Linked DNA regions of Homo sapiens. The protein of the gene in region 3 interacts with the protein of the main gene of each other region in a pairwise test. Each region holds a gene or a part of one and is shown on either strand. Other genes may lie near its edges.

Region 1 (3,750 bases), on a different chromosome or scaffold from region 3:
ATTACACATTATCATTCCGACGACTGAAGTCTAACCGGCAGAAAGTTGGCCTCGTAACACAAAATGAAAAACCAAGGCTCAATCTCTTCCTGTTCTCTGAAGAAATCATCTCATTGGAAAGAAAACAGAAAGGGAGCGACCAGTTTCCTAGGTCTGTGCTACTTAAGTACCCCATCCTCCCAGTAATCACCAATTTATTTTTTTAATCTTACCTAGTCTTTTTGACCTTGTAAACCTGAAAGTATTGAGTTGTAAAGGAATGTCATTTCCCATGCTTTCCTCCTAAGGCTCAATTGCTGAGTGAGGCGTGCTTTTTGTTCCCAAGTTCTCTAACCCCTGTGAGATATGGCTATTTCACGTGTCTTCTTAGCCCCACAAAATGGCTCCCTTTGTGCCACTTGGCCAGGACCCCGAGGGTAGCCACACATGAATGCAGGTCATAATCGATGTAAAATACATGCTCAAAAAAGTGATTTAAGCTTCTTCCAAGCCTTGAAGAGGATCCCAGACATAACTGTAACCCACCTTAAAGAACAGTGTGCAATTAGCTGAGACAATGTGGACACCTTCCACAGAATCCAAACCCTTCCACCAAGTAAGTTAAGCAAGGACTTGGAAAAGGGTTCCTGTCCAAACACTGTACCCAGTGCCCCAAGCCCAAAAAGCAGTGGGAAGAAGGGCAAGAAAAATCCCCCGCTTCCCAGGTAGCGCTACCACGTTAGAGACAATGGATGTCTCCGGCCCCGCCCAAGAACAAGAAACCTCCTCCTGCAAGGGAACCAGGGCCAGGGATGAACTCACTGGGCAAACGTCAAAGGAGGAAGCGAAGGTAGGATGCAAAGGCCACGGTCCGAAGGTTTAAGCGCAGAAAACCCACTCGGGTTGGCTCGTTCCCCGCGCCCGCCCCCGCCCCCCGCCTTAGAAATGAGCGCAGGGATGGGGAGAAGGGGTCTTTCCTTTGTTAGGAAGGGGAGACACTTGGAAGAGGGGAGGCACTTCGAAGAGGGGAAGAACGATTGGGTCCTCAATGGGGGGTGAAGGGTCGCGATGACCAGCCCCGCTCGACCACACATGCACCTGTCAGGTAGGTCCGAATAAGGAGTGGGGGCACGGCGAGGGTAAGGAGCCCGCCGGACCTGATCGATCCGGTCTCCGGATCCAATGGCTGCGCGCGAGAGCGAGACCAACCGCATGCCACGGGGGAGAGACAGGAGCGCGTGGCCCATCAATGGGACAATAGGACCTGACCATGCATGGGGCCCTAAAGGATCCCCGGGCACCTGGGGGGCCAAGCCCACCACCCTGGGGATGCACCAGCCGGGATGCACACAGGAGAAAGCGAAGCCCTCCCCGAAGGTTCCGATTAACGAAAACCGGCCGTGCTCCGAGGGGCGACCAGCCCCGGCCTCCTCAGCCCCTGACTCCGTGGAAGGAATGAATGGAGAGCAGCAGGGACCCGGGTGGGGCCGGCGCGCAGGGCTCGCCAGGCGGCACAAAGGCGGCGCCGACGGCAGAACCCCGCCACCCGCCCCGGCGCGAGCACAGCGCACGGGGCTCGTTACCCGCAACGACCGGCGCGAGGCCCCGCCGGCAGCGGCCCTCCCAGCCCCTCAGCCCCGCGCGGCTCGGGCGCGACCCGGTCGCCTCACCGGGAGCTATTCCTGCTGTTGGGGTCGACTCCCTTGAAGGTGGTGGTTGTGGTCATGGCGCCGAGGAGCGAGGTAGGCTGGCGCCGGAGCAGAACGCTCAAAGGGTCGGACCCGAGGGGCGCTGGGAAACTCCACACCCAACAGCCGACCACCGCTGCAGGAGCCGCCGCTGCCGCCTGTCCGGCCGATCGACGCCTTTATAGGGTTTTCAACCCCCGCCCCCTAACCCGCCGGCATTGGCCGATTCAAATGAATTCTTTCATTCCTATTGGCTCTCTGGAGTGCCAAGCACCATGCGGCATTACGATGGGCTGTGGCGGCCACGGCTCAGCCTAAGCCCGCCCCCTTCCTGGACTGGGAAGGCCTTGGGACTCTCTCCCCTCCCCCACCCCAAAATCTCGGCGATGATTGGACGGAAGGCGAATCTACCTCGCGCTGGGTGGAAGTCGTGCTGGCTGTCACTGTAAAACGTTACCTGACAGAGGGGGAAGCTCTTTCTTGGGGAGTTACAACCTCGGCAAGCAGAAGGGAGATTTGTCACTGTTACTGTTCTCTCATTTGCTTTACTGATGGTGGGATAGTAAGGGCATCCTCCTTAAAGGATGAAAAGTACTGCAACAAGTTGACATTTATCTGTTGAATACCTACTGTGTGTCCCATTTAGAAACCTAATAGTCTCAAAGCAGCCGCACAATGAGTCAGCAACAGAGAGCGCACCAAGATGATCCCTTTTAAAAGGACTGGAAATTCCTTACATTTTAATGTTACTGTTTAGTTGTAATGGGTGGTGCATGTACTGGACCAAAATTACAGTCGCTCCTATTTGGGGGCCTATTCTAAGGCTGGTTAATGCCTGGCACCAGGAATGGACTCATTCCCTGCTACCAAGACTATGGAAGCAGCTCAGGCCTCTGCAGCTGTTTATAACCCTTAAGTCATGACTCTTCCACCTGTCTGGGTAAATCTATCCATGCGACAAATGCAGACACACTTGGAGGATTCAGGAATGATGGTTTACAAGATCATAATAGGAAAGCCTTGGGCAAAAGAGGGCAGGCCCTTCTCATGTCTTGCATATTTCCTCAAGGCAGATGTCTTTGCTTGTCTCAATATTTCCATAATAATTGAACCACATTCCTCTTTGCAAAGCCACCTTTCAGGTAGTTGGAAGTTTGTATTCTGGGCAGTCTAGGTTAACCACCCTCCCCCCCCGGGCTTTCATGAAAAGCCAGTGAGAAGTTCTGTTCTAGAAAGCACGGATGATGCATTTATGTGCTTACCACAACAGCACGAAGCGCACCACTTGTTTGTGTTAGAATCTTCCCTTCTTTTTTTCCTTTCTTTTTTTTTTTTGTTTTTGAAGTGGAGTTTCGCTCTTGTCACCCAGGCTAGAGTGCAATGGCGCTCAATGCAACCTCCACCTCCCAGGTTCAAGCGATTCTCCTGCCTCAGCCTCCGTAATAGCTGGAACTACAGGCGTGCGCCACCACCCCTGACTAATTTTTGTATTTTTAGTAGAGACGGCGTTTCACCATATTGGCCAGGCTGGTCTCAAACTCCTGACCTCAGGTGATCCATGCTCCTTGGCCTCCCAAAGTGCTGGGATTACAGGTGTAAGCCACCGCATCTAGCCAAAATCTTAGCTTTTTTTTTTTTTTTTTGAGACAGAGTCTTGCTCTGTCGCCCAGGCTGGAGTGCAGTGGTGGCGCGATCTCTGCTCACTTGCAGCCTCCACCTCCCGGGTTCAAGCGATTCTCCTGCCTCAGCCTCCCGAGTAGCTAGGACTACAGGTGCGTGCCATCATGCCCGGCTAATTTTTTGTAGTTTATTAGTAGAGATGGAGTTTCACCATGTTAGCCAGCATGGTCTCAATCTCCTGACCTCGTGATCCACCCACCTTGGCTTCCCAAAGTGCTGGGATTACAGGTGTGAACCACCGCACGCCCAGCCAATCTTCCCATTCTTTCTTTTTTTGTTGTTGTTGTTTTCGTTTTTTTGAGACAGAGTCTCGCTCTGTCGCCCAGGCTGGAGTGCGGTGGCATAATCTCGGTTCACTGCAAGCTCCGCCTCCCGGGTTCACGCCATTCTCCTGCCTCAGCCT
Region 2 (3,750 bases), on a different chromosome or scaffold from region 3:
TTTGCAACACAGCAAGACCCTGTCTCTATTTTTAAGCCTGTAATGCCAGCACTTCGGGAGGCCAAGGTGGGCGGATCGCTTGAGCTCAGGGGTTCAAAACCAGCCTGGGCTTCATGGCAAAACCCCATCTCTACAAAAAATACTAAAATTAGCTGGGTGTAGTGGTATGCACCTGTGGTCCCACCTATTCGGGAGGGGACTGAGATGGGAGGATTGCTTTTTATTTATTTATTTATTTTGGAGACAGAGTCTTGCTCTGTCACCCAGGCTGGAGTGCCATGGCACGACCTTGGCTCCTTGCAACCTCTGCCTCCTGGGTTCCAGCGATTCTTTTCAAGTATTTTCTTTCTTTCCTTTTTTTTTTTTTTTTTTTTTTTTTGAGACAGAGTCTTGCACTGTTGCCCAGGCTGGAGTGCAGTGGCGCAGTCTCGGCTCACTGCAAGCTCCGCCTCCCAGGTTCACGCCATTCTCCTGCCTCCGCCTCTCGAGTAGCTGGGACTACAGGTGCCCGCCACCACGCCCGGCTAATTTTTTGAACTTTTAGTAGAGATGGGGTTTCACCGTGTTAGCCAGGATGGTCTCGATCTCCTGACCTCGTGATCCATCTGCCTAGGCCTCCCAAAGTGCTGGGATTACAGGCGTGAGCCACCACGCCCAGCCCAAATATTTTCAATCCACATGGTTGAGTCCATGGATGGAGAACCCATAGAAAAGGGGGGCTGCCTGTACACATGAGGTGTTAGAAGGTGATAAATGCTAAGGACAGAGAGCAGGAAACTGAAAGTGTGGGGATTGCTATGCAAAACTGATATATCAGGGAAGGCTTCACCGAGAAGGTGTCCTTTAAACAGACGTGAAACGGAGCTATGCGAGCATTGGGAAGAGCATACCAGGCAGAGGGAACTGCCACTGCGAGGGCCCCTGGGCGGGACTGTGCTCGGTAAGCCTTTGGCAATCCACGCCCAGACTAGGAGCCTGCACCCCTAACCAATGGACCACCCTGTCTGTTTGCCCCTCCCCGGGGCCTTCTCCTGGTGGGTGGGGCCCCCGCAGGTGTGATTCGCTCACTGCACAGCCTGGGCCGCCTGGAGCATGCCTTCTGCACAGAGACCCGGCCCTACAACCAGGGAGCCCGGCTGACGGCCTTTGAGCTGGTCTATGAGCAGATCCCCGCCACCCTTATCACCGACAGCATGGTGGCTGCTGCCATGGCCCATAGGGGCGTGTCAGGTAAGCAGACGGTAAGCCCTGGGGGCGGGGCTCTGGAGCATGGGGCCAGGTAATGACCCCCAACTTCTCATACGCCCCCTCCCCAGCTGTGGTCGTGGGAGCTGACCGCGTGGTTGCCAACGGCGACACAGCCAACAAGGTGGGCACCTACCAGCTGGCCATTGTCGCCAAGCACCATGGCATTCCCTTCTACGTGGCTGCCCCCAGCTCTTCATGTGACCTCCGTCTGGAGACCGGCAAGGAGATCATTATTGAAGAGCGACCGGGCCAGGAGCTGACCGATGTTAATGGGGTCCGGATTGCAGCACCTGGTAAGCTGCCCCCTCAGAAAGGGGACACCCCAGCTCCTGGGCACTTCATGGAGGCAGGTGATATGCAGGTCCTTGTCATCCTTCTGGAACATACACAGCTCCTACAAGCCACTTTTTCTTTTTTCTTTTTTTTGAGATGGAGTCTTGCTCTGTCCCTCAGGCTAGAGTGCAGTGGCACGATCTGGGCTCCCTGCAACCTCCACCTCCCGGGCTCAAGCAGTTCTCCTGCCTCAGCCCCCCAAGTAGCTGGGACTATAGGTGGGTGCCACCACGCCTGGCTAATTTTTGTATTTTTAGTAGAGATGAGGTTTCAACATGTGGACCAGGCTATTTATTAACTACTGACCTCAAGCAATCAGCCTGCCTCTGCCTCCCAAAGCGCTAGGATTACAGGTGTGAGCCACAGCACGCCTGGCCCAAGCCACTTCTTCTAACAGGTGCATCCTGGAGGTCAGATCCAATGTTGGAATTTACAACTAACCGGTTATATGAATGATCTTGAGTAACTGTCTTGCTATTCTCCACTTAGGTTTTCTTAAGAGGAAATAAGAATATCTGGCTGGCCACGTGTTTGTAAAGAAAAACCAAGACGGCCAGGCGAGGTGGCTCACACCTGTAATCCCAGCACTTTGGGAGGCCGAGGCGGGCAGATCACAAGGTCAGGAGTTCGAGACCAGCCTGGTCAACATAGTGAAACCCCGTCTCTACTAAAAATACAAAAATTAGCCGGACATGGTGGCACCCGCCTGTAGTCCCAACTACTCAGGAGGCTGAGGGAGGAGAATCACTTGAACCTGAGAGGCGGAGGTTGTGGTGAGCTGAGATTACACCATTGCACTCCAGCCTGGGCAACAGAGTGAGATTCTGTCTCAAAAAAAAAAAAGAAAAGAAAAAGCAAGATATTTCTACACTTATTTTTATTTGTTTATTTTCATAGAGATAGGGTCTCGCTATGTTCCCCAGGCTGGTCTCAAACTCCTGGCCTCAAGCGATCCTCCTGCCTCAGCCTCCCAAAGCACTGAGATTACAGGTGTGAGCTCCCATGCCTAGCTGCAAGACTTTTCTTAGCTGCCTATACTTCCTGGCTGTGCAACCGTTAGCAAGTTCCCTAAATTCTCTAATTCCCTAAGATCCTCACTGGTCCTATCTGTAAAATGGGCTATGGCTAGAACCTGCTGCATAAACCCAAGGGCGGTCAGTGAATTAACCCACAGGACATTTAGATCAATGACTGGCCCTTTAAATAGTTCATGCACTCAGATGCCGTGGCTCACGCCTATAATCCCAACACTTTGGGAGGCGGAGGTGGGCGGATCACTTGAGGTCAGGCGTTCCAGACCAGCCTAGCCAACAGAGCGAAACCACGTCTCTACTAAAAAAATATAAAAATTAGCCAGGCGTGGTGGCACATGCCTGTAGTCCCATCTACTTGGGAAGCTGAGGCATGAGAATTGCTTGAACCTAGGACGCAGAGGTTGCAGTAAGTTGAGACTGCACCACTGCACTCCAGTCTGGGTGACAGAGCGAAACTCCATCTCAAAAATAAAAAAAAAGGCCGAGCGCTGTGGCTCACGCCTGTAATCCCAGCACTTTGGGAAGCCGAGGCGGGCGGATCACCTGAGGTCGGGAGTTCAAGACCAGCCTGACCAACATGGAGAAACCCTGCCTCTACTAAAAATACAAAATTAGCCGGGCGTGGTGGCACATGCCTGTAACCCCAGCTACTCAGGAGGCTGAGGCAGGAGAATTGCTTGAACCCGGGAGGCGGAGGTTGCAATGAGCCAAGATAGCGCCACAGCACTCCAGCCTGGGCAACAAGAGTGAAACTCCATCTCAAAGAAAAAAAAGAAAAAACAGTTCATGAAATATTAGCATGAACCAATATTAGCATTATGGGGCCAGGTAAAATGGCTCACACCTGAAATCCCAGTATTTTGGGAGGCTGAGGTGGGAGGATCACTTGAGCTCAGGAGTTCAAGACCAGCCTGGGCAACATTGCCAGACCACAATCTCTAAAAAAATTGTTTTGCCAGGTGTGGTGGTTCATGATTGTAACCCCAGCACTTTGGGAGGCTGAGGCGGGCGGATCACCTGAGGTCAGGGGTTCGAGACCAGCCTGGCCAATGTGGTGAAACCCCGTCTCTACTAAAAATACAAAAAAAAAAAACGTTAGCTGGGCGAGGTGGCAGGCGCCTGTAATCCCAACTAC
Region 3 (3,750 bases):
TGCCTCGTTCCTCAACTCTCTATGCTAGAGTACTTCAGGGATCAGTCCTTGATCCTCTCCTTTTCTCTATACTTACTCCTTTGAGGGTTTATCTAGTCTCACAGATTTAAATATCTTTGATATGCTGACAACTCTCTAATTATCTAATTCACCCTGCCCCCAATCCAAGTCCAGACCTGCATATCCTAAAATTGGATACCTCCACTTAAATGTTTAAGAGACATCTCAAACTTAACATATTTAAAACTGGGCTTCTAATATAACTGACATACTTCCCAGACCTCCATCCCTGAAATCTTTGCCTCCTCTGGCATTCCCCATTTTAACTATCTACAACTCCCCATTCTTTCAGTTACTTAGGTCAAAAACTTGCAGATGGACGTGGTGGCTCACGCCTATAATCCCAGCACTTTGAGAGGCTGAGGCGGGCAGATAGCCTGAGGCCAGGAGTTCAAGACCAGCCTGGCTAACATGGTGAAACCCCTTTTCTACTAAAAATGCAAAAAATTAGCTGGGCATGGTGGCGCACACCTGTAATCCTAGCTACTTGGGAGGCTGAGGCAGGAGAATCTCTTGAACCCGGGAGGCAGAGGTTGCAGTGAGCCGAAGTTGCGCCATTGTACTCCACCTTGGACTGGAAGAGTGAAACTCTGTCTCTAAAACAAAACAAAACAAAACCTTGCAATAATTCTTGACCTCTTTGTGTCCAATATACATACAGTCTGTCAAGCAAATCCTTCTGGCTTTAAGTCTAAAATACACCCACAGTCACGCCTGTAATCCCAGCACTTTGGGAGGCCGAGGCGGGCAGATCACAAGGTCAGGAGATCGAGACCATCCTGGCTAACACGGTGAAACCCTGTCTCTACTAAAAATACAAAAAATTAGCTGGGTGTGGTGGTGGGTGCCTGTAGTCCCCGCTACTCGGGTGGCTGAGGCAGGAGAATGGCATAAACCCAGATGGAGGAGCTTGCAGTGAGCCGAGATTGCGCCACTGCACTCCAGCCTGGGCAACAGAGCAAGACTCTGTCTCAAAAAAACAAAACAAAACAAAACAAAACAAACAAACAAAAAACAAACAACACCCACAGGCCCACAGGACCTGACCACTTCCATCCTACCTACCACAATTACCCTGATCCAAGCCACTGCCATCTTCTGACTGAATTACTGACTACATTATTGCAATAAGTTTGAAACAGATCAGTCAGCTTCCACCCAACACCTATCCTCAACGTGGCAGCCAGAATGATTCTGTTAAAGCCTAAAATTATGTCACTCTTCAGCTCAAAATTTCCAAAGGCGCCTCATCTCTGAGTAAAGACCAAAGTCGAAGCCCTATATGTTTTGGCTCCCCGTTTCCTCTACTCGTCTCTAGCCAAGCCCTCCTTGCTGTTCCTTGACCATACCAGCTATGTCATGCCCTCAGGGTTTTTGTACTTGCTGCACCCTCTACCTGGAGCATCTTCTCTCAGATGCCTGCATGTGTGCTTTCTCACGTCTTTCTCTACTCCCATCAAAGTAGTTTCCTGCTATATTTTCCGGTACACCATTTTCACCTTCTAATATACTATATAATTTATATACATATTGCTTTTCTGCTCCCTTCTGCCCCCATATAGAATGTAGATTCCAGGAAGGCAGGAATTTTGATTATTTTATTTATATACTATATCCCCCACATCTGGAACAGTACATTTTAAAAATGAAAAGCAAATGTTTCTCTGATGGATAAAGGGTGAAATAGTTTTAAATATAGCTTTTCCTCTCTAAAATTAAGACCACCTGTCCTAGTATCCTTTCCTCAGTGAACTCGGTTCTTCAGTAGGGATTAAATACATACATTTCTGAAGATAAGAAAAAGCTCTATTTATATGAATATGTATATACACATGGCTTTTTTAGTTCTCTAACCATATTTTACTTCCAAATCTACTAGTATGATTTTAGCCTTTGATTAGCCACTGAAGTGTACCTATGTCAATTTTGCAGAGTTAAAGATTTAAAAAATGAACTGAAAGGCCATTTTTACCTTCTAAGAACTTTTATTGATACGTTAAAAAATCATAGCAATTACTCATTCTATAAAAATGTCAATTAAGCCACTGGAGCTTGAAATGCAAAAGCCTTCCAATTATTAAAAAAATTGCTAATCTTGTGACTAGTACTTCTGCTTTCTCATCTTTAAAATATGGATAATAATAGTACCTACCTCATTTGGTGGTGAGGATTATAAAGTTAATAATACACATGAGGTGTCTGGAAGAGCACCTATGCACAACTTAAGCTCAACCAAAGTGATGGCTGTTATTCAGTTACTTCTACTACCTGTTGGTACTGTTATTGCAACTATTAACAATACAATCTGGTTCTCTTCTTCATAAATAGTTTTTGAATGTGTTAGTGTGAAGCTGGATGATTTGTCAAGTTCTATATTTGAATATTTCTATGTATTATCTTAAAAAGCATAACCTGCAACAAATTAAAGAGATAAAACTTCCTCCAATGTCATTGGTCATTAGCAATAATATAATTGAGGGTGGAGAGACAAGCTAGACTTTCTTTTCTAGAATAGTAGCACTGGTTTTACTTTGTATTGCTGGAGCTTATCTCAAAGAGCAGTAATAACGCAACAACTGGATTTTGTTTAAATGGCCAAGTCCTAAGCATAGTGTGGCTTTAAGTAGAATGCGAGTATAAGCAACCCCTATGCCGCACTTCCAGAGTTTCAGGATAAAGTGGAAAAAAGTACTAAGGCTTCTTGGGCTTAAAATAGTTATAATGATGTGAAGATAAAGTGCTGTTCTGCCTTGAGATATTAACACCACTAATAAAACCTCAAATATATAGTTATGTAAATGCTCCTGTATATTCTATTAAAATAACTAATGATTAGGCTACCATTCATTTTTGAGGTTCAAAATTGGTTTCATGGACGTGCTCAATTTTATTCTAGGCCAAGTTTTGAAGTGTTAATGTGCAGAAACAAACACCAAAGTGACTTTATTTACCTTATTCCTTGAAACGATTTTTTGATATTCATCCTTCAAATGCTACATATCGCTCCCCTGCTTTAATGGTTCCTCAATATATAAATTCCAAACTCCTTACAACAACTTACTTTAAAAGCCATTCATGGTATGACCCTGCTTAACTCCTCTAGATTCATCTACCATTCCATTCTTGAACACTATGCTCCAGCCTGAATGGACTACTATCAGTTCCCCGAACTTTCCCTACTCTCTTTCTTCTGGCTTTTTTATAAACATATTCTTCCTTGCTTAGAATATTCATCCCTGTCCCTTTCTTCATCTAGATTATTCCTACCAAGATAACTTCACCTGGGAAACTCTGCTAGATGTACCTCAGTCACAGTTAGATGCCTTCACAATACCAGGCACCTTCTGCTTTTCTGCCTACCACATGGCCTGTCTACCAACGGCTTGCTTTGTATTTCTACCTAGGCTAAGTGTTGTGAGAGCAGAGACCATGTTTGCCCTAAACATTATTTTATTTTCAGTGTCACCTTATAATGTGAGCTCCATAAAGGCAAGCATCTTTGCCTGTTTTGTTTGCTGATATTACCCCACAATATGTAACAGTGCTTGGCACATGGCAGATAGTCAATAAATACGTGATGAATGAGTGATTGAGCTTTGTGTTTTACATACTGTCATTTTGCTTTGAAGTATATTAACATACTCAAAATAATCACATCGGTAGATATGAGGTCTTACGAAATATTCTAAA

Evidence for each region.
Region 1: the proteins of SH3GLB1 (region 3) and JPT1 interact in binary tests that used the Homo sapiens proteins (3 or more experiments, as listed by UniProt).
Region 2: the proteins of SH3GLB1 (region 3) and MRI1 interact in binary tests that used the Homo sapiens proteins (3 or more experiments, as listed by UniProt).

Annotation. Positions count from the first base shown.
Region 1 is NC_000017.11:75,152,693-75,156,442, forward strand, and holds the start of JPT1 (jupiter microtubule associated homolog 1), read right to left. Parts: upstream 1,821-3,750; 5' UTR 1,706-1,820; coding exon 1,650-1,705; intron 1,552-1,649; exon of another isoform or gene 213-1,551; intron 1-212. UniProt on the Homo sapiens protein: Modulates negatively AKT-mediated GSK3B signaling.
Region 2 is NC_000019.10:13,767,508-13,771,257, forward strand, and holds part of MRI1 (methylthioribose-1-phosphate isomerase), read left to right. Parts: intron 1-851; coding exon of another isoform or gene 852-940; exon of another isoform or gene 941-1,053; coding exon 1,054-1,230; intron 1,231-1,316; coding exon 1,317-1,541; intron 1,542-2,070; coding exon of another isoform or gene 2,071-2,090; exon of another isoform or gene 2,091-3,750.
Region 3 is NC_000001.11:86,735,567-86,739,316, reverse strand, and holds part of SH3GLB1 (endophilin-B1), read right to left. Parts: intron 1-3,750. UniProt on the Homo sapiens protein: May be required for normal outer mitochondrial membrane dynamics. Required for coatomer-mediated retrograde transport in certain cells. May recruit other proteins to membranes with high curvature. May promote membrane fusion.